Linked DNA regions of Homo sapiens. The protein of the gene in region 1 interacts with the protein of each later gene in a pairwise test. Each region holds a gene or a part of one and is shown on either strand. Other genes may lie near its edges.

Region 1 (11,019 bases):
TCTGCATCTCTTGCCCATCGAGACCTTCCTGATCTCTCTCAACACGATCCCACCTCTCCATGTCTGTCTGTCTGTATACAGCTCCCCCCACCCCCTCTGTCTAACATGTTTTCTGTTTCTCTCCCTCTCCCTGTCTCTGCTTCTGTCTCCTCTCCTCTTCTCTCTCTTCTCCCCATTTCCCCTGGTTGTTCCTCCTCTTCCTCTTCCTCCTCTTCCTCCTCCTCTTCCCCGCTGCCCCCATCTCCCCTTGATCCGTCCACTGCATAGTCTAAGGAGCTGCAGATCAAGAAGCAGTTCCAGGAGACGTGTAAGATCCAGACTCGGCAGTACAAGGCTCTGCGAGCACACTTGCTGGAGACCACGCCCAAAGCTCAGCACAAGAGCCTCCTTAAGCGGCTCAAGGAAGAGCAGACCCGCAAGCTGGCGATCTTGGCGGAGCAGTATGACCAGTCCATCTCAGAGATGCTCAGCTCACAGGCGGTGAGGCCTGGGGTCCAGGGAGGGAGTGCGCTAGAGGCCAGGCTCTGTACTTTGCTTTAGAGAAATGGACGGTGCAGGGCATGCACAGAGCTGGGGCTTTTTTACTTGGGAAACTCACATACTCTCCCTCTGTTCGTGTTCTCCACAATGATTTATTTCATATTCTCCTCAGTGGTTTTATTCTTTCTCTTAGTATTTTCTTAAGGTCTTGACAAAGCCATGTGCCTATTCCCAAGAACCACCAAGGAAAAGAGTGGCTATTATTTTTTTCCTGGGCCTGAGTTAGTTTAATGGGTAAACAGGGTGCAGATTAAAGTGAGTGTGGCCCTCAAGCCCATTTACTCAGACTTCTGGAGGATTTTGAAAGTTGCTGTTCTAAAAAAATGATCACACCTAACACTGGAATGGGCCACTTAAAATGTGCGGAGAGGGTGGAGAGTGGAAACGCCCCACCCAAGGCTGTTCTCTCACCCAGTCCCACCTCTCCCAGGTAACTTGTTAATAATTAACTGTATTTTGTGTTTTTTCAGTGCACATTTTGAAAAATTATATGAATTTTAAACACAGATGGAATCATACTTTACATTTACTTTCTGTAACTTCTTTTTTCCACTTAATATTTCTTGGACATCTTCCCCTGTCAGTACACCTGTCTCATTTTTTTTACAGCATAGAATTTTCCATGGTATGGCTGTACCATAATTTATTTAACCCATCCCTTATTGGTGGACATTTAGGTTGTTTCCAGTATTTTGCTATCACAACGCTTCCGTGAACACCTCGAGCACATGTGCAAGTATACCTGGGGGATAGATTCTGCAGTGTAATTGCTGTGCCACAGGGTATGACCATCTTCCATTCTGATAGATGTTGAGACCGCTGCTTCTTGAAACCTTAGGGCCCAGGCCTACCTGGGGCAGGGGAGGATAGTGGGGGTGGGGGAGGAGATCCCTACAACTGGTTGTTCATCTTCCCCAGCTGCGGCTTGATGAGACCCAGGAGGCAGAGTTCCAGGCCCTTCGGCAGCAGCTTCAACAGGAGCTGGAGCTGCTCAACGCTTACCAGAGCAAGATCAAGATCCGCACAGAGAGCCAGCACGAGAGGGAGCTGCGGGAGCTGGAGCAGAGGGTCGCGCTGCGGCGGGCACTGCTGGAGCAGCGGGTAAGGGGCCCAGCCTCCAGGACTGGGGAGGGAGGGTGGGCTCCTGCCCCCGACTCTAACCTCTGTTCCGGATGCCCCAGGTGGAAGAGGAGCTGCTGGCCCTGCAGACAGGACGCTCCGAGCGAATCCGCAGTCTGCTTGAGCGGCAGGCCCGTGAGATCGAGGCCTTCGATGCGGAAAGCATGAGGCTGGGCTTCTCCAGCATGGCTCTGGGGGGCATCCCGGCTGAAGCTGCTGCCCAGGGCTATCCTGCTCCACCCCCTGCCCCAGCCTGGCCCTCCCGTCCCGTTCCCCGTTCTGGGGCACACTGGAGCCATGGCCCTCCTCCACCAGGCATGCCCCCTCCAGCCTGGCGTCAGCCGTCTCTGCTGGCTCCCCCAGGCCCCCCAAACTGGCTGGGGCCCCCCACACAAAGTGGGACACCCCGTGGCGGAGCCCTGCTGCTGCTAAGAAACAGCCCCCAGCCCCTGCGGCGGGCAGCCTCGGGGGGCAGTGGCAGTGAGAATGTGGGCCCCCCTGCTGCCGCGGTGCCCGGGCCCCTGAGCCGCAGCACCAGTGTCGCTTCCCACATCCTCAATGGTTCTTCCCACTTCTATTCCTGAGGTGCAGCGGGGAGGAGCAGATGAGCTGGGCAGGGCAGGGGTGGGTGGAGCCTGACCCTGGAGGGCACTGAGCTGGAGGCCCCTGCAAGGGTAGGGGACAAGATGTAGGCTCCAGCTCCCCTCAGACCTCCTCATCTCATGAGCTTCTTGGGGCTGGCCAGTGGCCCAGGGCCAGCTTGGCGATAGGTGCCTCAAGGCTGCCTGGGAGCCCCGCCTCCCTACCATGGTGCCAGGGGTCTCCCTCCGCCACCTAGGAAAGGAGGGAGATGTGCGTGTCAAATATTCATCTAGTCCCCTGGGGGAGGGGAAGGGTGGGTCTAGACATACTATATTCAGAGAACTATACTACCCTCACAGTGAGGCCCTCAGACCTGCCACAGGGCAGAGCAGGTCTGGGGCCTGAGGCAGGGAGAATGAGAGGCCACCTTACTGGCAGGAAGGATCAGGATGGGGTCTTGGGGTCAGGATGCCTGGGTCTCTTCCCGTAACTGTCTGACGTCCTGTGCCGTCTTGTCCTTTATCTTTTTTTTTTTTTTTTTAATTGGGATCAGGGCTGGGGCGGGGAAACAAGGGAAGGACCTTGGAAGGGGCTGCTCCCAGGCCTGGGGGGCAGTCGTGGGAGCCCCTCTCAGCTGTGGGGCTGGCACAGAGCCCCAGGCAAGCTTTTAATAAACTGTTGGTTATTCTAACAGATCTCAGGACTCACCCTTCTGTCTTTGGTGTGCGTGAAGGACTGCTCAGTGGCCACTGAATAGTACTGCTTGTGTTTTATAAAGAGAATTTATTGGGCTGTGTATCTAAACATTTCAGTGATTTTAATGACTTTAGGTGTGACCAGATCTCGGATCTCAAAGGTGGTCTTCAACCCCTTGACCTCTAATTCGTTTTCTTTGCTTTGACTTCAAAGATTCTTAGGTTTGCCTCCCACACAGACCCCAGGCAGCTCCATGCTCACGAATCTTCCCGCAAGCCTCAGCAGCCAGAGTTCAGTGGAGACCTCATGTGACTGCAGAGGCTGGGCCTGTAGCCAGAGGCCTAGAGGGCTAGGACTGGCCCAGGAGGTATGGGCTTTTCCCCACCCCTTTGAGGCTAACAGCCCATGGACAAAGTGGCTGTTTGCATAAGGGAGAAGGCTTAAGCACTGGCTGCCCTCAAGTCATTCTATCCCTCTCCCAAGTGGGCATTAGGTTATCAGACTAGGCTAAAAGCAGAGGGGCCACGGGGTAGGCGGGCAGCACAGGAGCCACACACCCTTCTCCAAAAGGGTCTGGTGGCTGTTGGATGACAGGGTCTGGAGGCAGGGACTTCTTCCAGGAACCCGGGGGAAATTAAAGGGAACCAGGCCAGGGGAGGAGGTGGAGGCAGTGACTACTGCTCAGTTTCCTGGCCCAAAATACAGGAGGTGAGAATGGGGGACCAAATTTGATGAGGTGATTAAAAACACTCCTTTATTGAGTCTTAAAAAATAAACACCTTAAAGGGACAGCGTGAAGCTGAGAAGTAGCATCCCAACAGCTTGTGTCCTTGGGAGCTGCAGTCTTCTCTGAAGGAAGCTGCTTCTGTTCCACAGACACAGGGCAAGGGGTGCTATGTATGCTTTGTACATGTATCAAGGGTCCCTCCTGGGGGTGGCAGAGCTCAGTTACTCTCGCCATCACTGCTGATGATGCCACGCATATGTGACCAGTCTGGGGGTGCGGGACGGGGCCGCTCTTCATCTGAGTCCAGGGTCCGTCGGTACAGCTCCCCTGGGGGTGCTGCTTCTCCTAAAGGGTTCCAGGCTGTACGTCTGCGTGGCCGGCCTAGGGGAAAGGGGAAACGAGAGATCAGATGTCTGAGAAGGTCCAACCCCACCTATCTGCTCCTGGGCAGTGAGAGGAAACCCCTTACCCGAGCCACTGATGATGTTCGCAACATCCAAGGAGGCCACCTCAGCTGCCTCCTCCCTCTGCTCCTTCAGGGCCCGACACTTCCCTAGGGAAGGGGTACCTGGGGCAGAAGAAGCTGGTGATTCTCTCCTCCCCAGCAGGAAGGCCCTCTCCTGCAGCCCCCAGGGCACGCCGGGCCTCACCCTTCATGCCTAGCGCTTCCAGTTCTGCCCGGAGGATACTCAGGCGCTCCTTGTGTGAGCAACAGGAGCCCAACAGCTTCTTGTAGTTTCGATGGGCACCACAGGCCCGAATGTAGCGCTTCAGCCTCATCACAGCCGGGTGGTCCTCTCCACGGCGACCTGAGCCAGCCTAGCAAGGAAAGAGCAGCTGAAGGCCAAGCCTGCTGGGCCTGAGGCAGGGTCTCCCTCTTCCCTAATAGTGGCCTCCCACCCCTCCTCACCCTCACCTTCCCTCCTTTGGCCTCTGGACTTCCATCTGAGGAGGAAGAGGAGCTTCGTGTCCTGCCTTTCCTGGAGCTCTTCTTGGAAGAGCGGTTCTTCCTCTCCCCCTGGGGGCCTCCCCCTGCCTCGCTGTCACTTACCTCCCTCTCCAAGTCACTTTCCTCACCACTGGTGCTGCCCAGTCTGGCCATCTTTCTAGAGCCTTTAGCTGTGGGTTCCCCCTTCCCACTGTCTTCCTCGTCCTCGCTGCTTCCACTCAACCTCTTCCCACCCTTAAGCTGGGTCCTGTCCTCACTCTTCCTCTGCACTGGGGGTTCTCTATCTCTCCCACTGTCATCCCCACTGCTGGCTGCCTCTTTCTGCTCTTCCTCGCTGTCTGAGTCTCCCAAGAGCCTCTTTGCCTGGCTTTTCTGCTTACAGCTCCTCTCCTCCCTAGCTGACTTTCTCCGGCCATTGCTCCTGGTTCTGGGTTTCCAATCCCCCTTTTCCTCATCCTCTTCTTTCTCTTCCTCCTCCACTTCCTCCTCTCTCTGCTCTTTCTTCTGGGCTAGGATCTCCTCTTCACTCTCCTGTTCACTTTCCTTCAGGCTTTTAGTTCCTTTATTTCCCTCCACCTTCTTTGCTGTCCTCTGAACGGGTTCTGCCTCGCTCTCCTCACTTTCTTCCCTGGCCTGCTTCCTACTGACTGAGGCCTTGCCTGGTGCCTGCTTCTTTACCACAGGTTTCTTCCTAGTCTTCCCCTTGTACCCCTTTTCCTCCTCCTCACTGCTCTCCTCTCCCCTCTGTGCGGGCAGGTCCCTCTGCCGTTCCTCATCACTGCTCTCCTCAACTGCCTTTGAGGCTCGCCTTGGATTCTCCTCTTTGGCTGGGCTGACTTCTGCTGCCACCCCATTCTTTGCTGGGGGTCCAAAGTAGTCTGGGCTGGAGGCTTCAGAGCCGGACTCTGGAATATGGAGAGGAGAGAGGGTTGAGACAGGCTCCTCCTGTCCCTTCTCCCTTCACTTCGGATAGGTTGCCTCGAGCCCTGCCCTGACAGTTGGAGGGGCAGCAGGAAACAGCTATCTGTACTTGCTGTTCCCGGTTCCTGACTCACTAGCCTTGCTCCCTCATCTAACGCCTGGGGACATAAGAGATGCGCAGTGAATGCTTCTTGAGTGAACCAACGATGCAGAAGGCCCCCACAGCAGGGAGGAAGCACTAACCCGACTCTGAATTGAAGCGGAACCTTTTTCTCTCCGGGTCGCTACAAGGGGTGGGAGGCCTCTTGCCCTTCTTGGTAAGGTCCAGTTTGTCTTCCCTGGAAGCGGCTTCATCCACCTGTGTGTGCGCCAAGAGGGCAAACTATGCACCAAGGCTGCGCTCACCGCGCCCCGTCAGGCCCCTCCTCCTCAGCAGCAAGCCCCGCCTCCGCCTCCCGCGGCCCAGGCTCCGGCCCGGCACACCTGCATCTTCAGCAGCTCCTCCTCCACCAGCCGCTTCAGTGCCTGCTTCTCCTCGGGCTCCAGGTGGCTGCGGCCCGAGTGAGCTAAGTACCTCCGCCGCACGATGGAATGCGTAAGCGTGCTGCAGGGACATGGTGTCAGGACGGAGTCCCGACCCACCCGCGCCCTTTCCAACCCCATCTCCAACCCCCTGGGCACCTGAGGTCCGGGCGGCCTCGGAAGAAGCTACGGGTGAACTCCTGCATCTCCTTCTCCCGCGCCATTTTGCTCAACCCGGGATTGACGGCTCCCGCCTTTTTTTCTTCTCGGCCTCCGTCAGCGCGTTTGACAGCGGCTCGCGCACGCGCAGTGCTGCGGCAACGTGGGGCGAGGGACCGTTGGCCCTTGGCCGCGGACCGCGTGGGCCGAGAACTTTGCCAGACGAGACTTGTTTTCTCTGGGCAGTTGGAGGGTCTCGCGGCTCCTACCCTTTTTTGGAACGGATCATTTTAAAAGTTCTCGTTAGAAACCAATTCGGCGCCGGCACCCTTTGGGTGAAACCTAATCAGCCCGCGACGCTGCCTTTCTCACTGGTCACGGGCAACAGCTAGGCTGCTGTTATTTCGCAAGGCAGAAGAGAAAAGGCATCCTCGCGAGCAGATGAGGAACCTCGGGGATAAATCCTTTTGTGGCTTCAAGTGTCTAAGTACATTAGAGTCAGGAACGGCGCTTTCCAGCGTCCGCCATTTTTGTGGCGTCACCGCGTCGCTGCTACGCCATCCCCAGCGCAGTGGCTGCCGCGCTCCTGTCCCAGTGTCCCCCGGGAGGTCGGCCCGTGCGGTGACGCCCCTGAGCGCGGGGTACGCCGGGAGTTGTAGTCCTGACGGCACAGCCTTGCAGCGTCTCCGGAAGTGGAGGCGGGAGCGGCACGGCAGCCACTGCTTGGGGTAGCGGGAGGGCAGACTCTGGGCGCCACTCCCGGGCCGGTCATGAACGGGCCGGCGGACGGCGAAGTGGACTACAAAAAAAAATACCGGAATCTGAAGCGGAAGCTCAAGTTCCTCATCTACGTGAGTGCTGCCGCGGGAAGGCTGTGGGGGATGAGGCCTGGCGCGGACAAGATCTCAGTTTACCCAGGTGTAAAGTGGGTGGGGCGAGCGGCCGCTGGTTCCGGGGCCCTTCACGGAGGACCGTTGGCCCAGCGCACCCCTTGCCCGTGATACAGGAGCACGAGTGCTTCCAGGAGGAGCTGAGGAAAGCGCAAAGGAAATTACTGAAGGTGTCCCGGGACAAGAGGTGAGGCACGTTGCAGGGGCGGAGGGCGATGTGCTTCCTAGGAAATCTACATTCGGACCCCATCCCCGAGTAGGGCCACAAGTGCATGGGCTCTTTCAAGTATCCGATGGGCCAGCTGGGAGGGACAGGTACCCAGGAGGACATTGCTGCGCTGGAAAATCACTGTCCGTGTCTCCTTCCCTCCCCTCAGTTTCCTCCTAGACCGACTTCTGCAGTACGAGAACGTGGATGAAGACTCTTCGGGTGAGCAAGGTCTTCAAAAATTGGTGGAGAGCATGGTTCCTGGTACTTAGCAAGCTTCCTGGGCCCCCGCCTTTTAGGCAGTGGTGGCTGATGCAGCCCCCAGTGGTCCTTAAGCCTAGTTGCTTGCCTTCCACCTCCACCGTTCTTTCATTCAGGCACTTACTGAGCACCTATTGTGTTTCAGGCACTGTGCTTGGCACAGGGGATACAGCAGAGGCAGAGATAGGCAAAGCCCTTGGCCTCTTGTAATTTATATTCTAGTTGGGAAGAATAAGTAAATGAAGACAATAGACTAGAATTTTAGGTCATAGGAAGGACTTGAAGGTAATGAAAACAGTTATGCGGTAATGATTATAGTAGAACAGGGGTTGATGAATTGTTTCTGCAAAGGGCCAGATGGTAAGTAAGCTTTTTGCAACATACAATCTTTGAAGCACCTACTGAACTCTGCCATTGTAGTAGCAGCCGTACCCCATAGGCAAATACATGAGTATGGCTATGTTTCTATAAAACTTTATAGGCACTGAAATTTGAATTTCATATTTTTCCATATGAAAAATTTTTCTTTAGTTTTTTTTTTTTCCAACCGTTTAAAAGCTTAAAAGCCATTCTTGGCCAGGTGCAGTGGCCCACGCCTGTAATCCCAACACTTTGGGAGGCCGAGGTGGGCGGATCACAAGGTCGGGAGTTCAAGACCAGCCTGACCAACATGGTGAAACCTCGTCTCTACTAAAGATACAAAAATTAGTCGGGTGTGGTGGCGTGCACCTGTAATCCCAGCTACTGGGGAGGCTGAGGCAGGAGAATCATTTGAACCCTGGAGGCAGAGGTTGCAGTGAGCCGAGATCGCTGCCACTGCATTCCAGCCTGGGTGACAGGGCGAGACTCCGTCTCAAAAAAAAAAAAAAACGCCCTTCTTAGCTTGCAGACCACACAAGCAGGCAGCAGGCAACCTCTGAATGGAGTACTCAAGAAAGGCCTTTCACAGAGTGACATTTGAGTTGGGACCAGAGAAGAAACCAGCCTTCCATCCTGGGCAACATAGTGAGACCCCATCTCAATTAAAAAAAAATTAGCCATGTATAGTGGTGTATACATGTGGTCCCAGCTACTTGGGAGGCAGAACCAGGAGGATCCCTTGCCTGAAAGGTCAAGGCTGCAGTGAGCCATGATAGCACCGCTGTGCTCCAGCCTGGGTGACAGAGCAAGACTGTCTCAAAAGAAAGAAACCCCATCCTGGCTAACACAGTGAAACCCTGTCTCTACTAAAAATACAAAAAGTTAGCCGGGGATGTTGGTGGGCACCTGTAGTCCCAGTTACTCGGGAGGCTGAGGCAGAAGAATGGCGTGAACCTGGGAGGTGGAGCTTGCAGTGAGCTGAGATTGCACTACTGCAGTCCAGCCTGGGCAACAGAGCCAGACTCCATCTCAAAAAAAAAAAAAAAACAAAAACCAATCTTGTGAAGAAGTGGGCTAGAGCTGTCCCGGCAGAATAATATAAATGCAGCTACCCTGAGGTAAGAACAGGTCAGGCTTGGTTGAAGAGCAGAGGCATGAAAGAGAGAGAACACTGTTTTCGTCCTTTTATTTGAATATTGTCTGCAGTTAACTATATTTTACATCATAACCAGGGCCCCACATGTTAAACAAAACAAAGTTTAACGAAACATTTTTAAGATCACTGTATCCAATTCATCCTGACACTTTTTAGACTGCTTTTTTCCCCTTCTTTTAATGCTGGTTGCAAACCAATAAATTGATTTCATGACCCACTAATGGCTTGAGACCCACAGTTTGAAAAAGCCCTAAGGTAGGCATTTGTGGGCCTCTTCCTGGGTGAGGCCCTCGTAAGCCATGTCACGTAGAATCACCTCTCTCCGTGGTGCCTTTAAACATTGGTCTGGGCCGGGCACGGTGGCTCACGCTTGTAATCCCAGCACTTTGGGAGGCCGAGGCAGGCAGATCACGAGGTCAGGAGATCGAGACCGTCCTGGCTAACATGGTGAAACCCCGTCTCTACTAAAAATACATAAAATTAGCTGGGTGTGGTGGCGGGCGCCTGTAGTCCCAGCTACTCAGGAGGCTGAGGCAGAAGAATGGTGTGAACCCGGGAGGCGGAGCTTGCAGTGAGCCGAGATTACGCCACTGCACTCCAGCCTGGGCAACAGAGCAAGACTCCGTCTCAAAAAAAAAAAAAAGCACATTGGTCTGAGGCAGGGATTGGCATGTGGCAGCCAGCCACGTTTTAGGACGTAGTGTTTTGTCAGAACGCATGATACCCATTTGCTTGTTATTATAGGAGGATTGTAGATAAGGTTGGGGAAATAGGCAGGGGCCCACTCAGGTAGGTCATAGTAGGAGATTTGGCTTTTATTGTAGCCTCTCATCCCCTGCCTCTTCCTTCCCTAGGGGCTTCCAGTTAACATCCTGTTTGAGGGGAATTCAGGGCAGGAGGTGGGAGAGAACCCAGCATGTTCATGGCCAGAGTGGGTTGCATCTGAGGAGGAAGAGCCAGCGATGCGAGCCCCACTCCCGTCCTGGAGGCCCACGCCCTGGCCAGGGAGACACTCGCAAACGACGCTTTTCAGCACAGTGTGAGGGCAGCCATGACGAGAGTAGAGCGTTCCAGGAGAGCCTGCAGTTAACTGGGCTTGAGGGATTCTGGAAGACTTCACAGAGGAGGTGGCATTTAATCTGCTTCTTAAAGGGTCTGTCTGAGCAGAGACATTGGTAACGGCTTCTATAGGTGTAGCAGTCGTTTGTTCGATGAAAGATGGCCCTTCTAGGCAGAGGCACTGAACTAGGAAATACATTTCTTTTTTGACGAAATAGGTCAGTGTGCTTTAAAGAATACAGTTACGTTAGTTGACCAGAAAGGTACATTGAAGCCAGATTAAGCAGCACCATGAATTCATGCAGGTAGTGGGTGATGTCATCAGGAAGGATGTGACCAGGTTTGTTTTAGGTCACTCTGGGGTTGGGGGTGGACAGTGGGTGGCACGGTGAGGTGAGACTGCTTAGCAGGTGATTTTGACGTGCTGGTGGCCTGACCTGTGTTAGTTGGTGTGGGGAGCAGTGGATGAAGGGGAGGACTTCAGGGGTAGATGAACAGGACCCTGGTTATGGGGAGTGGGGCAGAGGCAGGAGTTGAAGACTGCTCAGCTCAGAGGCAAGGAACCAGTGGCATCAAACAGCCAAGGAGTCACAGACCTGGCTTGGAGTCTTAGCCTCACACCTTACTTTCTGAGCCTCGGTGACCTCATGTGACAAGTGGAGGTGCTGCCCTTCCCATCCTTCCTTGGATCTGATGACAAGGAGAGGTGGTGAGTGGGAAAGAGCCTGGCACCCTGGCCATGCGTGGCAGGTGTGTTACGGAGGAACCAGAGCGGGCGGGGGGCTGGGGAGGCTGGAGAGGCTATGGGCCTCCCTGGGACAGCTCGAGTGTGTGGTGCATGCGTGTGCCCACCAGCTGGTGAGTCAGATT
Region 2 (16,733 bases), on another chromosome or scaffold:
CTCTGCTATTTATCTACATGACCTTGGGCAGTTAATTAACTTCTCTGAACTTCAGTTTTTCCATGTGTAAAATGAGGCTAATTAGAAAGGTACCGTCTACCTTAAGGTCTTACTGCGTAGATGGGTAAAGGGCCTTGAGATGGTATACACAGTACACCTAGCAGTGAGATCCCACCCAGCAGGTGGGATTTTAGTTACTATTTTTCTTACCCATCTTTCCATATAGTTTGTTGGCCTCTGGTATGTTTCTTCTTGCTAGCCTTTCTGCTTCCACCCTTAACCACATAATAGTAATCACATACCGCACAGCTTGGTTCAGCATAATCGATGCCCAGTGTGGTCATGGCCCGGATGATAGCCAGGATGGACTGCAGCACATTTCCATAGATGATAGCCTTGAACTCCAGGCATTCTTCTGGTGAATAGCCATCCTGGTGAATGATCCTGCAAGGGGCAGACACTCTGTCTTTAGCTGGACCTGAGTAACCAGACCTAAGGGATTAGGAATTTGGGGGTATTTAAAGGATCATAAGAATCCTATCTCTCTGTTGCTACTGCTTTCTCAAAGTGGAGGGTGAGGGACAAGGGGTACAGATGAGGGGCATTGGAATCAGATCCTTTATACCTGGGCTCCTTGAGGCTAAAGAGCCTTTCACTTTGAATACCTCCACTGGCTGTACTGACTTCTTCACCCTATCTTGTCTTTTGGGGCTTTGTTTCTACTCACTTCATCTGTTTGACGATGGTGCTCTTTCCTGACTCCCCAGCACCTGGAAGGAAAAATGCTTATGCTTTCGATTTCCACCAGTTCTCCTCAGCCTTCCAGGAGATGGCCTGGGAGAAGTCAGAGCCACTGCTTGCTTGGGGGTCTTGTTAGGGGAGAATACATAGGGATGACTGCTGCCCTCAATTTCTGGCAGGCTTGAGCTCAGGCCATTCAACCTGGATTTAGAGCAGTTTCTTAACTTCAGTACTATTTAGTTTGGGCTGTCTCATGCATGGTAGGATGTTCAGCAGCATTCCTGGCCTCTACCCACTAGAGGCCAATAGCATCCCACTTCCCTAGTTATGACAACCAAAAGTGTCTCCAGACATTTCCAAATGACCACTGGCAGTCAAAATCTTCCTGTTGAAAACCACTAACAGATTCAGGGGGAGTCCTTTAACATTTCTCCTCTCTGCCTATTTTTGACTCAGGAGAGTGATCTTGGGGTAGGATTGGAGAGAGCTGGATCATTTCACCAAAATAACTATATTTTCATCACCTTGCTGGTTCCCTTTTTTTTTTTTGAGACAGGGTCTCAGGTTTGTAGCCCAGGCTGGAGTGTAATGGCACAATCTCGGCTTACTGCAGCCTTGACTTCCCAGGCTCAAGTGATCCTCCCACCTCAGTCTCCTGAGTAGTTGGGATTCCAGGTGTGCGACATCATGCCCGACTACATTTTTTTTTTTTTTTTTGAGACAGTCTTGCTCTGTCTCCCAGGCTGGAGTGCAGTGGTGCTATCTTGGCTCACTGCAACCTCTGCCTCCTGGGTTTTAAGCAATTCTTCTGCCTCAGCCTCCTGAGTAGCTGGGACTCTACAGGCGCATGCCACCATGCCTGACTAATTTTTGTATTTTTAGTAGAAATGGGGTTTCACTATGTTGGCCAGGCTGGTCTCAAACTCCTGACCTCAGGTAGATCCACCCATCTTGGCCTCCCAAAGCGCTGGGATTACAGGCGTGCGCCACTGCATCCGGCCATTTCCCCCCGCCCCTCCGTAGAGGCAGGTTTTCACCATGTTGCTCAACCTGGTCTTGGATGGGGCTAAGTGGGTTCCCTTTATTGACTAATGTGTCCTAATGTCCTCATTCACACTCTGCTCTCTCCATCAAAAACTCATACCTTCTAGTACTGAGTTTATACTACCCTAATGCCTCGAACTCCTCCTATTTCGCTTGTGCTTGTTCCCTCTAAGCAGCTTATCCTGAATGTAGAAGAAATCTGCTTAGGCTTAAAAGATCTCTCAGTGGCCCCACCATCTCTGTTTCCCCCTGCGTAACCTCCTGGGCTCCTTAGAGTCTGGTCCAGCTTACAAAGATATGCTCCTTTAGTGTGTCCTTACGACTGTGCCACAGATCAGCTGGGGGAAAAGAAGGTGCCTTAGCCTAGTGCGTCAGCTCCCAGATCCCTTATGGGGGCTTGGAAACCCAGCTCAGGCATCTAATCTTCTGCTACGTAGACCCTACCTGCTCCAGCTACCCTACTTCTGTGGTACCAGTGGTTTGTTTTCCTAAGCCACGTGTCTCAAATGTTCTTGTCTTGGTTTTATTTACAGCTGTGATCAATTTCCCTGACAAATTGAGGTGCTTTTATTTTCTCAGCACAGACCAGTGATCTGCTTAGGAGCTCATCAAGTTGATGAACCTTCCATCTGGCAGGAGCTTTGCAGGCAGCTATTGAATAGAGAGCCAGGAAGGGACTGCTGTACATAAAGACACCATTCCTCCTTCCTCAGAGCCCCCTACTTCCAAAGTTTTTACTGAAAGCAAGAAGGAACCACTATACTTGGCAAAAACCAGTGGGACTATCTCTGGTACTGTTGGCACTGACTGTATGGTGGGACTTGTGAGCCTGTTGGTGAGGGAAGGTCCTGTTCTCTTCTGATTTCTTGGCTTAGAGTTCTCTGCAGATTGGGTACAGTCTGCAAGTCCAGGGTCCTTGAAGCCAAAAGGATGTGTTAGGTTTGGTTAGATTTGGAAATGGGTGGGTTCATGGTGGCCCTTGCACTATTCCTCGCTCAAGAGTAGAAAAACTCTGGAATAGCCTTGGCATTCTGGATCCCCTTGGGGTGGCTGTTTAGGCCCCATATTAACTCAGCTCTAGATCTCCTGATCCCCTAGCCAGACTGTGTAGAGGAGAGGAAAAATGACCTGCCACCCTTCCTTCCCATGGGGTGAGGTAGAACCCACCAACCCTTCAGGAAAGTAGGAAGGACCCCTGCCTTCTCTGGCTCATCTTCCCATCTCACTCACCCAGCAGTAGCAGCTTGACAGTCTTGGCTTCCTTATCAGCATCCTCCTGCAGCTTCTTTTCTAGCTCCTTGGACCTCTTGGCCAGTTCTTTGTCCTCAGCACTGGCTCCACTTCCCATATTTGCCGTCTTGTCAGCTTTTTCAGGCCCCTAATCCTCTCTCGTAAGGTTTCCTGTATGTGAGATGGAAGAGAAGGAAAAAAGTTGGGATTGAGTATCCCAACTTGGCTCCCCTAAAAGCTGGTCTGTACGATGGCAGGTGAGAGAGCAGGCTGTAGGGTCTTGTACTCTGCCTACATTGACTGAGACTCCCTACTTCAACTGGAGACCTACTTCTTAGTCTAGGGATTGTAGCCTTTATATCTAGCAATGTGATAGGTCAAGCCAATTAAGAGCTTTGTCAATATGGCAAGGGGTAAAGACTCAAATGTTTCTATAACTAGGGAAATGATCTGCTGGGTTCTGACGGAAGGATAGGATGCACGACTACTTCCATCCTTTAAGGGGTTCATCCCCTGAAAGTCTCTTGCTTCCTTAGATTTATTTGCATCATAGAGCTAGAGATTACTGGCACATATGTAGAAAGCATTCCTTATGTTGAGCCTCCAGATTATAAGGTCTTGATCTCAAGGGCTTCAGGGTATCAAAGCATACTCGTTTACCATAGGCTGGTCCTGGCCAGGAAATTTGTTTTGGGTGGTGCCCTTCCTTGGGAAGATTAGGAATGTTTCAGCTCCCGCAGTGGCTGCTGCTCCAGGAAGCTACTAGCATTGTTCCTTTGCATTGGCCCCTCTCTTTGTACTTCTGTTATTAGCACTTATCACTTCATATTGTACGTCGTTTTACAAATCTTTTCCCTCACTGCATTTCTCCCCCTGGAGCTCAACGGACCAAATCTGACTCATCTTTGAACCTCTCAGAACTTGTAGTTTATTTGTGGATCAAAAGGTTTGGTGAATGAATAAATGCAGGAAAAGGGTGTATGGTGAAGAGAATGGGGTTGCTTCCCTTTGGCCCACTAAAGCCAGCTGAGTCCCAACTTCACTTCATAAATGAACTTTGCTGGTATTCAGTGTGGGGTTTGTGCTGCCTCACACAAAAAACTCTGCTTCTTTGGGAAATTGGACTCCAGACTCTGGCTTCTCAAAGGTTGGGGCAGCTCTCTCTCCTTCTGGCTCTCATCCCAGCTGCCCTTTCCTGGGGGAAAAATGAGGGTGCAGTCTAGCAACTGCCTCACAGACATTTAGGACTCCACAGGTTGTACTCCTCTATGCCAATTATTTCAGTTTACTTAAATGAGTGTTGCTGGCGGAGCCTCCTCAGGTGGAGATGTTTTAGAATTTTGTTGCCCAAAATGTGGATCAAGAGCCAGCAACATCAGATCACCCGGAAGCTCATTAGACATGCAGAATCTCAGGCTTTAATCCAGAACTTCTGATTCAGAATCCGCAGTTTAACAAGATCTCAGGTGACTCTAAAGACATTAAAGATTGGGAAGTACTGCCCTAGGGACCTGTTTTCCGCTAAACTTACCTAATCCTAAGAATCACCTGGGTTGCTGGTGTCTGTGTTTCCTCAAGTCTTAGGTGCCACTGACTAGAAGATTACCCTGCTTTCCGAGATGTTAAAATAGTGTATGTTTTTAAATGGTATGTTAGCATCAAACTCCAGAGCCAGAGAAAATATTTTAAGCTAATACAGGTAGTTATCACATCTGTGAAGTTTGAAAAACCCTGGCCTGAAACAGTTCTCAACTTTTAGTGTACAGTGGCATTTACCTGGAGAGCTTTTTAAAAAATACTGATTTAATTGGTCTGGAGTGCAGTCCAGGCACAAGGATTTAAAAACGTCCCCAGCTGATTCTAGTGTACAGCCAAGGTGGAGAACTACTGAGGTCGAAGGATGTAATTTGCTCTTTCATTTTAGAGCTGGACTTGTGCAGCAGTGGCCAGTTGGGACTGGGAAGGTCAGGAGTAGAATCTAGGTCTCCCCGCCTATCAGGTACCCTGAGCCATAGCTAATTATCTTCCTCCTTCGCACCACCTTTCAGTGACTGTAGGGGCTGATGGAGAAATATGCAGCTGCTGAGGTGCTTTCCATGGTAGCCATGTTTTCCCAATCAAATTGGCAAGTCCTTATTGACTTAAGGAAAAACAGGAGAGTCTCTTTGAAATTGTGACTATCTTGGAATCTTGGTTATAAGGTTTCAGTAATTATACCCCACTGCTAGCCCTGCTCCAGCGTACTCACAATACTGGTAACTCACACTGAGGCCAGAGCCATGCTGAAGGCTACACTGTTCAAGGGGCTGCCTGGAACTATTAATAATTATTATGTTATAGTTATTATAATTAATAACTGCTGAACAATGTAAGTGGCTCATACCAGTTAATTATCACAATAACTGCTATTGTCCCCAATTTACAGACTAGATTAACTGAGACTTGAGAGTTAAGTAACTCATTTAAAGTCAGCTGGGCATAGTGGCGCATGCCTGTAATCCCAGCACTTTGGGAGGCTGAGGTGGGTGGATGACCTGAGGTCAGGAGTTCCTGGCCAACATGGTGAAATCCCGTATCCACTAAAAATACAAAAATTAGGCCGGGCATGGTGGCTCACGCCTGTAATTCCAACACTTTGGGAGGCCAAAATGGGCAGATCATCTGAGGTCAGGAGTTCGAGACAGCCTGGTCAACATGGTGAAACCCTGTCTCTACTTAAAAAAAATACAAAAATTAGCCAGGCATGGTGGCAGGCACCTGTAATCCCAGCTACTTGGGAGGCTGAGGCAGGAGAATCACTTGAACCCGGGAGGCACTGCACTCCAGCCTGGGCAACAGAGCAAGATTCCGTCTCAGAAAAAAAAAAAAAAAAGAAAAGAAAAGAAAAGAAAAAGCCCAGCATGGTGGCATGCACCCAGCTACTTGGGAGATAGAGGCATGAGAATCGCTTGAACCCGGGAGGTGGAGGTTGCAGTGAGCCGAGATTGCGCCACTGCACTCCAACCTGGGTGACAGAGTGAGACTCTGTTTCAAAAACAAAAAAACAAAGTTATATGGCCTAGTAAACAGACAAACCGGTGATCCTTCTTTCTATTACTTCCACATAAGTAGCCAGAGAGAGAAAGCATGGACAAATGCATGAACTCTATAACAGCAGCCCTTGTTAAAGGAACCACTAAGTTGTTTCACACACAGGGAAAGTGGGCTTGTTCCTTTTTCTGCTACTACCTCTGCAAACTTCTGTGCTGCTTCTGCTTTGTTCCCTAACTTACTGGATGGAAGTTCCCCTTTCTCACTGCTAAGCTGAGAGAGGGAACTGCTAGCCCTCGCCTGGCCTGAGAGTACAGATCCATTACTGTGCATACATCATCCTGATGTCTGTGACCTCCTGCCTCTGCCTCTATCGTCAGTTCCTGTGCCTTTCCTGTGGCTGTCCCACTTTATGATCACATTTACGAACAGTTTCCTGATGAAGTAAATAAGGTATGTAGTGCTAGTTCCATTTTGGAGGTGAGTGAACTGAAGTACAGAAAAGTGATCCTCACATTAATAAGCAAGTTGGTATCAGAAGCCAAGCCAGAGCTCAGGTGTTTTGATTCACAGCCCTTTATAACCATTATCATTTTGAATGAAAAGTAAATCACTGTTTCTTAGTGATTTGGGCATGTTTCCTGAGTTAAGGGATCTGTCTGACATCCGTGGTAAGCCTTGTCTTAAGTGAATTGTGGGTAAAGACTTGTCCCAGATGGAGTGGGAGGACATGAAGGATGAGGAACTACCTTCAGGACCTTCCAGTCCATAGGCAGAGGTGGGGGAAATTCACAGAAAAACAAATGAGTTAAAGGGATACTGCAGTAGTGCTGGGAAATTCAGAGCTGTTTAAGACCTAGCATTCACCCCTGGTAGGAAAGGCAATCAAACACACATCTGACTGTCAGACTGACAAAGTTCTACAGCGGAAGAAAGAAAAGGGTGATTGTGAAATGAATAGACTTTCCACAGAGAAGCAGAATAACAGTGGAAGTGGGAGATACGCATTTTGGGGAAAGGAAAGAGCATGAAAAAAGAGGTAGAGGCACAAAGTACAAGGTGTGCTCAGAGAAGACTGGGACTTTGATGTGACTGGACTGGAGTGAAAGGTGCATGGAGTGGAGGGTTGGGAGGTGAAGATGAAGACAAGAAAGGGAAATTGGAGCCAGCCAGTGAAGCGCCTTCAATGGCAAGGGGTTTGACTAAAATCCACTGGGGTCTTATAAACAAGTATAGATGGAAACAGCTGTATGGTGCTATAAACACAATGCTGGGTGACTGAGGTGAGGGGGAGAGGGAGCTGGCTGCTGGGAGAAGCTGAGAAACCAGAGCTGAACAGCTTGTTTCTAGAAGGGCCTAGGCATAAGGTATGGTTTGGGAAATTGCCTTGGCCAAGGACCTTTTTGGAGCTGCAGATATTCTCTCCCAAGTTTAGTATCTGTGAAGATTGTTCTGGCCTAGCTAGGGAGGCGGACATCACAAGTGAGCTGAAGTCCAGAAGCAAAGAAAAGCACTTCTTCAGAGAAACAGGAGTGCACCATCTTTAGGGAGCTGGGATTCCGGGAGGGCCAGTTAAGGAGCCATGTGGGGAACAGGCTAGGAGGGGAGGAAGCTGTGTTTGGAGCTAGGGAATATCTCAGAGGCTCAAAGGCAATGAATGTTAAGGCCTCAGTGTGAAAAAAGCCCAGGCCATAGGATGACTCACTCCTTTATTTCCCAAGCTCTGTTCTGCGTAGACAATGAAACCTCACTGAGATTCTTGCTGGTATGGAGTGGGTGGAGGGATTGATGCCTAACTATAATCAGGGCCGACTTCCTAGCAGCAACAATACACCAGATGACCTGGAAATAGGGGAGGGTTGTAGAGTGAAGGGTGTGTTGCAGATGGGACTAGGGGACTAGCATAAAGGGACTAATGAACTGGTTTGCCTGGGCTGGGTGGAGGGCAAGGATTGCCACCTATTGGCTGCTGAGGTAGGTAGGTCTGCATTAAGCAGGATGCTCAAGAGACCTGGCCCAATGCAAGATACTATCTTTAAAACTATGTCAACATTTGCATCTTATCAGAAGATACATGACATTTATGTAGTTACATGGTGCTTGATTTTTGAGATTCATTTTATTCATTCTTGAGAGTCCATCAGCCTCAAAATCCCTAAGCGCCCCAAGACCAATTCAGTGGGCCATAAATGTAAACAGAATAGTTTAAGTCTGGGGTTAAGACCCCGGGAAGGCTGGGTTGGGGGGACTGTGGAGGCAATTACAGATTTTTACAGATTTTTGTTGATTTCTATCCCCTTGATTATAAAAGTTATGGGTATGTATTATAATTTCTAAAATGCAAATAAATATAAAGAAAATAAATATAACCCATAATTCCATCACTACAGATAATCATTGGTAAACTTGTTGGTGTGTTTCTTTTCTACCCATGTATATCACATAAGTAGGACCATACTGTGTATAGTGTTTTGCATCCATTCTTTTACCTAACTTTATATTGTAAACATTTCCACATCATTAAACATTTCTCCAAGAACAATTTTTAATGGCTGTATTTCATGGTATGAATATTACATAAACATTCCCCTATTGTTCGACCTTTAAAGTATCTAACTTTTCTATGCAATACACATTGTGGTGCTGAACAACTTTTTGCATACATATTTTTCTGGCAGCTCTTTTTAGAAAAACAACTTCCAGAAAGTTGATTACTGGGTCAAATAATAAGAACCTTTTTGAAAATTTTGATTCTATATTACCAGATGGCTTTCAGAAAGATTATATCAGTGTTCAAGGCCACCAGTAATGTGTTTGTGCACATGTACGTGTGTGTGTGTCTCCCATCTCACTAACTATACCCTTGCCAACCTGCATTAGCGTTTATTTTTTGGTTTTTTGTTTTTTAGTCTTTGCTATTTTGATTAGGTAAACCTGGTTATCTCTGTTCTCTTTTTAGTTTTATGGATTCTGTGTGAGGTGAAGAGGCCAAGTTTTTTTTAAGTTTGTTCAGGGAACAGTAGCCAGGGATCAATGGAAGTGGCACCAGATGCAGGTGGAGAAAAGGGTTCAGGGTCCAGAATCCAGCGTGGGGAGAGAAGAGGGAGGCAGAGTTTGGGAAGGATCTCTGCTGTGGGAGTGGTAAGAACTGGGAGGAGCCAGACAAACAGCATTAGAACAACTGGGTGTGGGGGGCAAAGGCCTCCCACAAGAGGGAAAATAGGGAAGAGATTAATTCCTGCTAATGCATTTAATTATATTCAGTGAAGTCTTAGGGACTTCCCTCCACAAGTTCCCTTTAGGTCGGATTATCTACCCCTTGGCAGTGGGGATGCTTGTTGGATAGACCCCAGAACGGCTGCAAGTGAATCAACCTGTGAGTGTCAATAGAGAACCAAGGCCAAGGCTAAAGCAATGGTAATACATGAATACTGAGTACTAACTACAGGCCAGGCACAGTTCTAAGCAGTTAACTTATATTAACTCATTTATCTTAACCACCATATAAAGCAGGTACTCTTACACTCATTTTACAGACGAAATAGAAGCACAGAGAAGTTAGGTAACTTGCCCAGTATCAGTCAGGAAGTAGGTGAAATCTGGATTTGAACCCAGACATTCTGGCTAGAGTTAAAGCTCTTAACCACCAAATACAGAAATGTGGGAAGGGGAGCCAGAATTGCAGGGCACAGCCTCCTACCTACGCCGGCCGGAAGAAAACAGACGACCAAGTGAGATTGCAGGGGCAGGACTTCTGCTTAAAATGAATCCTGGGACAATGATAACAGCTACCTTTCACTGGGCCCTCACTTCGTGCCAGGCACTGTGTAAAGGGACTTTACGTTTAATCTTCACAGTAACCCCTTTGAGTGAGGTACTGTCATTACCCCATCTTACTGATGAGGAAGCTGACGCACGGAACTGGCCCAAGACCCAGGGTCGGCTCAGGCCAGCCCTACCGCGGTGTGGTGGCTGCCCACGTGGCGCCCAGGAAGAGAAAAAAATGGCGAGGCGGGGTCGGCAGGCGGAGGCGGGGCCAGGCGGGGGCGGGGCCAAGGGCCGCAGAGCCTGGCGCGGAGCCGGCGAGATTTTGGTGGGGTCTCACCTGTTGCGTGACTCCCCCACAGTCCGGCCGCGGGAGTCCGACCCTGAATGCCCAGGGAGTGTTGAGAGAAATCTGGACGAGTTTCGGGTCCCGCTCCCTTGGGAGCACGTGGCCTACCAGCCTCTCGATTGCAGGGTTGGGTGGTCGCGACACCGGGGTCGCCTTGAGGCCAGTCCGGCTGCCGAGGTCTGCGGGAGTCCACCTCCGGCCAGCTGGCAATTTTGAAAGACTGCCTTACTTTCCCCATCTCAGTGCCAGGGCAGGGGCCCTTGGAGTGACTTGGCTGGGGTCTGTGGCCCGATCCCCCTGCCGTCCCTCAGGACCCGGGCTTTCTGCTGTACAGACTTCTCGTGGGCAGCCTCCCCTCGGAACTCGGGCATCATGGCCTCAGGTGAGTGTGTGTACGTGTGTTGGAGGGAGGGTCTCTGGGACAGAGAAGTGCTGTGGCCAGAGTGACAAGAGGGTGGGAGTCACAGCACAGCAGCAGGACCTAGGGAAGGCGGTCAGCTCCTCCCAGGAGGGCCTGGGGAGCAGAGCCAGAGTGTGCAGAGACAGAGGAAAAATCCAAAGAGGCTAGGGTCTCTGTCCCAGACCCCCAGACAAGGGGGTCTCCTGGCCTTCCTGCCTTCCTGGGAGGTAGCTATTTGGCGACGGTGGAATTTTCCCGGGACAGGCCCCTCCCTCCTGGGCTGGGATTCTCGGTTCTTCCCCCTCCTCCCAGAGCTGGGCTACCCCGGGAGCTGAGGGTCAGATGTGGAAGGAAAGTGGGTGCTGGGTTTTCACGGAGTATGCCTGCCCTGCCCCGGGAGGACTGTGTTTGAGCTTGGACTCGCTCGCTGCTGAATTCCTGTTTGTTATTCTTTTTTCTTCCAGGCTAGCTGGAAGGACCAGCTAGCCTGGACTTTGGCTTCTTTGCCCGGGAGCCCTGGCATGATGGGGTGAGGGCTCTTGGTGGGTTAGTGGAGAGCTGGGGGCTGGCCCTTCCCCATCTTCTTTTCTACCCACCCCCTCCCCGCCCCCCGCCAGGCCCAGCCACCATCAGTCACGTCACTCCTGGGACTGAGGAGGCAGGGGAGGGATAAGGGGCAGAGATGGAGGCCCCACTCCCCGAGGTTGCCTAGACAACATGAGAAATCGTGGCCAGGGCCTCTTCCGCCTGCGGAGCCGCTGCTTCCTGCATCAGTCACTCCCGCTGGGGGCGGGGCGGAGGAAGGGGTTGGATGTGGCAGAGCCAGGCCCCAGCCGGTGCCGCTCAGACTCCCCCGCTGTCGCCGCCGTGGTCCCAGCCATGGCATCCTATCCATCTGGCTCTGGCAAGCCCAAGGCCAAATATCCCTTTAAGAAGCGGGCCAGCCTGCAGGCCTCCACTGCAGCTCCAGGTGAGTGTGTGCTTCCTGGCCTCAGGATAGATGCTGGGCTCTGTCTTGCCACCTCTCGCCCAAGGTGCTGGTCCCCTCAGAGGGGGCCACCTCCTCCGGCATCCTCTCTGTGGTGGTGCCCCTCAACCTCAGTCCCAGGGACAGCCGGCTTGGAAGGTGGGGTGAGGGGTGGTGGGGGGCGGGGGGTGGATCTGAGATATCTGTGCCAGGGATGCTGTCCTCTGTCACAAGGAGTGGGCATGGTGTGGGTGCAGCAAGAGGTGTGTATGCACACGTGTCAGCGTGTGCATGTGCTAAGACTGCGTGTGAAGCATGTGTGAATGGAGCGGGGGTGTGTGGGACTGACTGTTTTGTGGACTGGCCACTCTGACTGGCGCCTGTGCCTTTACCAGGCAGGCTTAGGCTGTTCTGTGGCTAGTTCCACTTTTTAGGACCCCACATCTAGATCCCCCTCACTGGGGGTCTGACATCTGGGCACAACCATTGCTGGCTGGCATCCCACAACTGGGGGCTTGACTGTATCTATCGTTTGCTATTTGCTCATTCCTGGTCTATATTGTGAGCCTCCTTAGGAGTATGGGGTGTCCTTGGTCAGGTCCGTGCAGGGTTCAGGCTGGGGCTGCTGCCCGCACTGTGTGTGCTTCTGCACCCTTTGGTTCGTCTCTCACTCTAGTAAGCATCTCTGCATCATTTGGAGCAGGCAGTGAGGTGCGGCAGTGCCTGTCTCAGTGAGGGCTTGGCTGCCTGGCTCTGTGCTTGCAGAGGGATATCTGCCTGCTGTCTGCTCCCAGGCCTTGTGGCTAAGGAAAGACCCACCCTGACTTTGATGACCAGATCATGCCGACTGCCCCCACCCTTGCAGCTGTCTGTAGCTATAGCCCAAGTATCAACCTCCTATATTTTTTTGTTTCATTGAAGATGACTGGTGCAAGGTCTCTACTGTCCTGAGGGTGTTCTCTGTGCCCAGGTCTGTGCCATCCAGAAAGGGTGTCCCCTGGGTGGGGCCCTTCCTGGCCCTGTTTGGTTCAGCAATAGGGCAACTGATACGGATCTAGCCCAGAGCTGGAGACCCTTCGGTGGTCAGATGGTAAGAGCATCTGATACTTGTGGGGTCAAAGCCGTGGACACCCCTGTGCCTACTGAGGCAGTCGTGGCAGTGTGTGAGGGGCTCCTGGTCGAGAGGGGAGATGGGGTGCTCAGAATCTCAGAGTTGGTGGGAGTGGCTCTGGAGCAGCCCACTCTGGCTTTTGCTTGACTTCTCCGTAAGTGTGGGTGTATGTGTGTGGTGCTGACCCCTAGAGAAAGGACCAGTAGGCAGCTGAGTCTTCTAGGCCTGGCCTCTGAGAACGTAGCGGTTACTGCCCGTGTGCCACCTTCAGTGAGCCTGCGGCAGCCCTGGAGAGTGGTCTGGCAGGCTGGGGGGATGGCACTGGCTGTTGGAATCTGTCCTGCTCACCCCAGGATTGCTGTGGAGCCTGAGACCCCCCTGCTAGGAGAGGGGGTTGAGATTTGAGCCTTTGACTCAACTCCTGCTGACCCAATATGAACCAGCCATGGAGGTCTGTGGTCGGCCTCCCCTAGAAGGAGTCAGAAGTGGTCTGGGGCCATATGTAGGGAGGAGGTGTGTAAAATCAGGGTTCTCGGGCAAGAAAAGATCTTACACTCTGGGGGTGAGACAGCTTCCCCTCTTTTCTTCCTCTTCCCACTTTGTCCTTTTCCAAGTAAGAGATAGAGTCACCCCATCTCCACTCCTGCCAAGTTCACTTCACTGCCCTTTACTGGCCTATTGCCTTTGCCCTGCACTGGGCCCAGGGAACCTCCCACTGTCCTCAGTGGGCGGGGCTACAGGTAGAATGTATTTTGAGGGTCCCAGGAGTTCATAATTGCAGGCCTTGCCTCAACACAGAGCCTGGTGTTTTGCAGAACACTTGCAGAGCCATTATCTCTGTGAGCCTTATGGCAGTTGTGGCTAGGCAGGGAAGGGACCACTTATCGCCCCACTTGTAGATGAGGACCCAAAGCCTCCCAGAGGTAGGTAGAGACATGCCCGGAAGCAGGAACAGAATCAGATCCATGTTCTCCAAATTCTAGCCCCCTTTCTCCCAAACTTATTCTGGACAGTTTGTCCTGTCCCTGATGATAGGCTTGGATCAGGGGTTGCAGGTCTAGGGGCCTGCGAACCAGCCCCCTGAGCAGCTGGGCAGCGGGGAAGCCTCAGTGACTGGCCCCTACCTAGACTGGGCCATTTCCCCAGCTGCCAGCCAGCTCCTACCCCAGCAAAGGCCCTGTCTCTCCTGAGGGATGCCATAATCAGGGCCCAGAGGACAGTGGTGAGCAACAAGGCCACTGCCAGAAGAGGCCAACCTGGGGCTGTGGGTGTGATGAAGAGCGCTGTTCCCCTCCTTTTTCTCCCCTCTTACTCTTTGGCCAGCCAGGCCCTGCCCACTCACTGTCCCCTAGGGCAGTGGATTTTAAGGAGGCTTGGCTCCTCCCTGTCGGCCTGCCCTGCCCAAGTCAGCCTACCCTGCTACTCCCCCTTAGGAGCCTCACATCTGGCTGGGTCTTCCCTGGCACTGTAGAGGTGGAGGCCCTCTTCAGTTCTGGAGTTCGTCTTATCTCCCAACTCTGATGCTCCTTCCCTTGGTTTCTGGGCTCCCTTGAACTCCCCTAGCTCCGTGCTCACGGCCATCTCAGGGTCTCCCCTGCTTGCAGCTGCACTTGGTACAGCCTGTGCCAGCCCCTGAGGGACCGGCTGCAGCTTCACTGGCAAACAGGCGGGCAAGGGGCACAGGGCTGCTGGCCGGAGCTGCCTGCACTCTGCAGGTAGGGTTCAGGCAGGGGCCGGGGTGCGCAGGGGACGGGGTCCTGGATCTGGGGCAGGCCCCTCCCTCTTCCCTTTGTCCAGCTTTGGGACCAGTCCTGGAGTATTGGGAAATGGGCGCAGAGACTTTAAGGCCGGCTACCTAGGCAGATCCTGTAATCCTTCCCTAAGCCAGGGTGGAGGGTGCTGGAGGGGAGCACTCCTTACAGCCGGCTGAGAGAGGCAGTTTGGGTGTGGAAAGCTTCTCACTGAGGAGCTGGGGCTGCTGAGCCCAGGGAGGGTCCTTCGGGGTAGGCTGGAAGCCTTGGCAGCCCCCATAGACCAGCAGCTTCACGGCCCTCTGGTGCCAGCCTCCTCGTGGTACAGATGGAAAGTCTAGTCTTGATGAAGAAAGACCCCTGGCTTCTGACACTCCCTTCCCCAGGGCCCTCTGTGGTGCCCCCGGTCCAGATCCTGGGGCCTGAGTGGCATAGACTGTTTGTGGCAGCTCCTTTTGGAGGGGCAGGCTAAGGCCAGGCCACATTTTGGCAGCCCTGGGGCCCTGGGGGACAGGGCGGGCCTCCAGGGAGGAGGTAGGGTTCCCTTGCCAACCAGGCCCTCCACTTCCTCTCCTCTTCCCTTGAGGGCTCGTCCCTAGGTCAGAGCTGAGCAGCAGCTGCGGCTTCTCTTGTGCTGCACAGGTCTAGGATGTCAGGCACAGGGCCCTGCCCCTTTGAGTGGAGAATCTGCTAGTCCAGGGGCGGGTCTGATCCTGGGTTGCCTGCCCTGGGAGCTGCAGGCTGGGGGTCCCTGGTGTGGCCGCCTGGTCCTTACCAAGCACCTGGTGTGTGTCTCTGAGGGTGTCTGTGTGCGTACGTGCATGTGTGTGCACACGTACACACGTGCACCTGCCTCTGGGAGGTAGTCACGTGGAGATTCTCATGGCCTGAGGGATCAGGCTCTAGTCTCATTTGTGGAGGTAATGAATCTACTTGTTCTAGGGGCAGACTCAGAATCCCCACCCCAAGCCTGGAATGGGTGAGGGGTCCCTGCGTTAGAGGTGAGGGTGAGCCCTTTGGGAGCCACACACACAGGCCTACTCCTCAGCTACTGAGGAGGGACTGCCCTCTTTCCCGACCCTGGGCTCTCTCGGGAGCTGGCCTAGGCAGGGCAGGGGCCCAGGGCTTTCAGGGGCTGCCCCTCCACCCTTTGACCCTGGCATCACTGTCTCTGCAGAGGCTCGGGGTGGTCTGGGGGCCCCTCCGCTGCAGTCTGCCCGATCCCTGCCGGGCCCCGCCCCCTGCCTCAAGCACTTCCCGCTCGACCTGCGCACGTCTATGGATGGCAAATGCAAGGAGATCGCCGAGGTATCACCTGGCACCACCCGCACCCTCACCCCGTGTCTCCATGCCCTGCCTCTGCTCCCCACACCCCTCACCTCAAGCTGTCCCCTCACCTCACGCTTGGCTGTCTCCTGATCCTCAGCCTCTCCCAGGTACCCCTGGTCCTGCTGCCCTCACCCCATCCCCAGACTCTGTAGGAGAGTGCCCGAGGGCGGAGGGCCAGCCATGCTGACCTTCCTTCCCTCCCCCCAGGAGCTGTTCACCCGCTCACTGGCTGAGAGCGAGCTCCGTAGTGCCCCGTATGAGTTCCCCGAGGAGAGCCCCATTGAACAGCTGGAGGAGCGGCGGCAGCGGCTGGAGCGGCAGATCAGCCAGGATGTCAAGTGAGCCCGGCAGGCAGCTGCTTAGTCTCCCTCCATACCCTTCCAGACCCTTTCAGAGCCCCTTTTCTGCCTCTTTCCCTCGCACCCTGCCTTGGGGGGTCTGCACAGGGAGCATAGAGTGGGCTTTGGAGTCGGGCTGCTGGGTTCTGTTCTGTCTTCTAGCCGCCGGTGTGGCTGGGTCATGTTGCTTAACTTATGGGTCTGCTTTCTCATCTCTAAAGTGAGTGAGAACAGCACAGGGTTCTGCAGCTCTGCCTTTGAGGATCACATGTGACAACATGTGCACAGCACCTAGTGCGGTGCTGGGACCTGGGAGCAAGGGCCGTCCCTCGGGATCTGCCTGACTTCTCACCCCTCTTGCCTCTAGGCTGGAGCCAGACATCCTGCTTCGGGCCAAGCAAGATTTCCTGAAGACGGACAGTGACTCGGACCTACAGTGAGGAGGGCAGAGGGGCACAGGGGATGCGGAGCTGCAGCCTGCCCTTCTGCCGGCTCTAAACCCCTCCCTTGAATGCACCCCCTGCAGGCTCTACAAGGAACAGGGTGAGGGGCAGGGTGACCGGAGCCTGCGGGAGCGTGATGTGCTGGAACGGGAGTTTCAGCGGGTCACCATCTCTGGGGAGGAGAAGTGTGGGGTAAGTATGGGGTGTATGTTGGGTGAGTCGCCATCACCTATGT

Evidence for each region.
Region 2: the proteins of HIRIP3 (region 1) and AMPD2 interact in binary tests that used the Homo sapiens proteins (3 or more experiments, as listed by UniProt).

The regions. Positions count from the first base shown.
Region 1 is NC_000016.10:29,989,326-30,000,344, forward strand, and holds HIRIP3 (HIRA-interacting protein 3), read right to left. Parts: upstream 6,293-11,019; 5' UTR 6,281-6,292; coding exon 6,216-6,280; intron 6,139-6,215; coding exon 6,018-6,138; intron 5,893-6,017; coding exon 5,778-5,892; intron 5,519-5,777; coding exon 4,581-5,518; intron 4,484-4,580; coding exon 4,315-4,483; intron 4,233-4,314; coding exon 4,134-4,232; intron 4,046-4,133; coding exon 3,882-4,045; 3' UTR 3,005-3,881; downstream 1-3,004. Other genes in the region: INO80E (INO80 complex subunit E), read left to right, coding at 6,986-7,066, 7,222-7,292, 7,483-7,535. UniProt on the Homo sapiens protein: Histone chaperone that carries a H2A-H2B histone complex and facilitates its deposition onto chromatin.
Region 2 is NC_000001.11:109,609,738-109,626,470, forward strand, and holds the start of AMPD2 (AMP deaminase 2), read left to right. Parts: upstream 1-10,099; 5' UTR 10,100-10,531; coding exon of another isoform or gene 10,532-10,541; intron 10,542-11,176; 5' UTR 11,177-11,370; coding exon of another isoform or gene 11,371-11,438; coding exon 11,439-11,529; intron 11,530-14,291; exon of another isoform or gene 14,292-14,352; intron 14,353-15,565; coding exon 15,566-15,696; intron 15,697-15,924; coding exon 15,925-16,055; intron 16,056-16,422; coding exon 16,423-16,491; intron 16,492-16,581; coding exon 16,582-16,690; intron 16,691-16,733. Other genes in the region: GNAT2 (guanine nucleotide-binding protein G(t) subunit alpha-2), read right to left, coding at 303-444, 728-770, 3,016-3,133. UniProt on the Homo sapiens protein: AMP deaminase plays a critical role in energy metabolism. Catalyzes the deamination of AMP to IMP and plays an important role in the purine nucleotide cycle.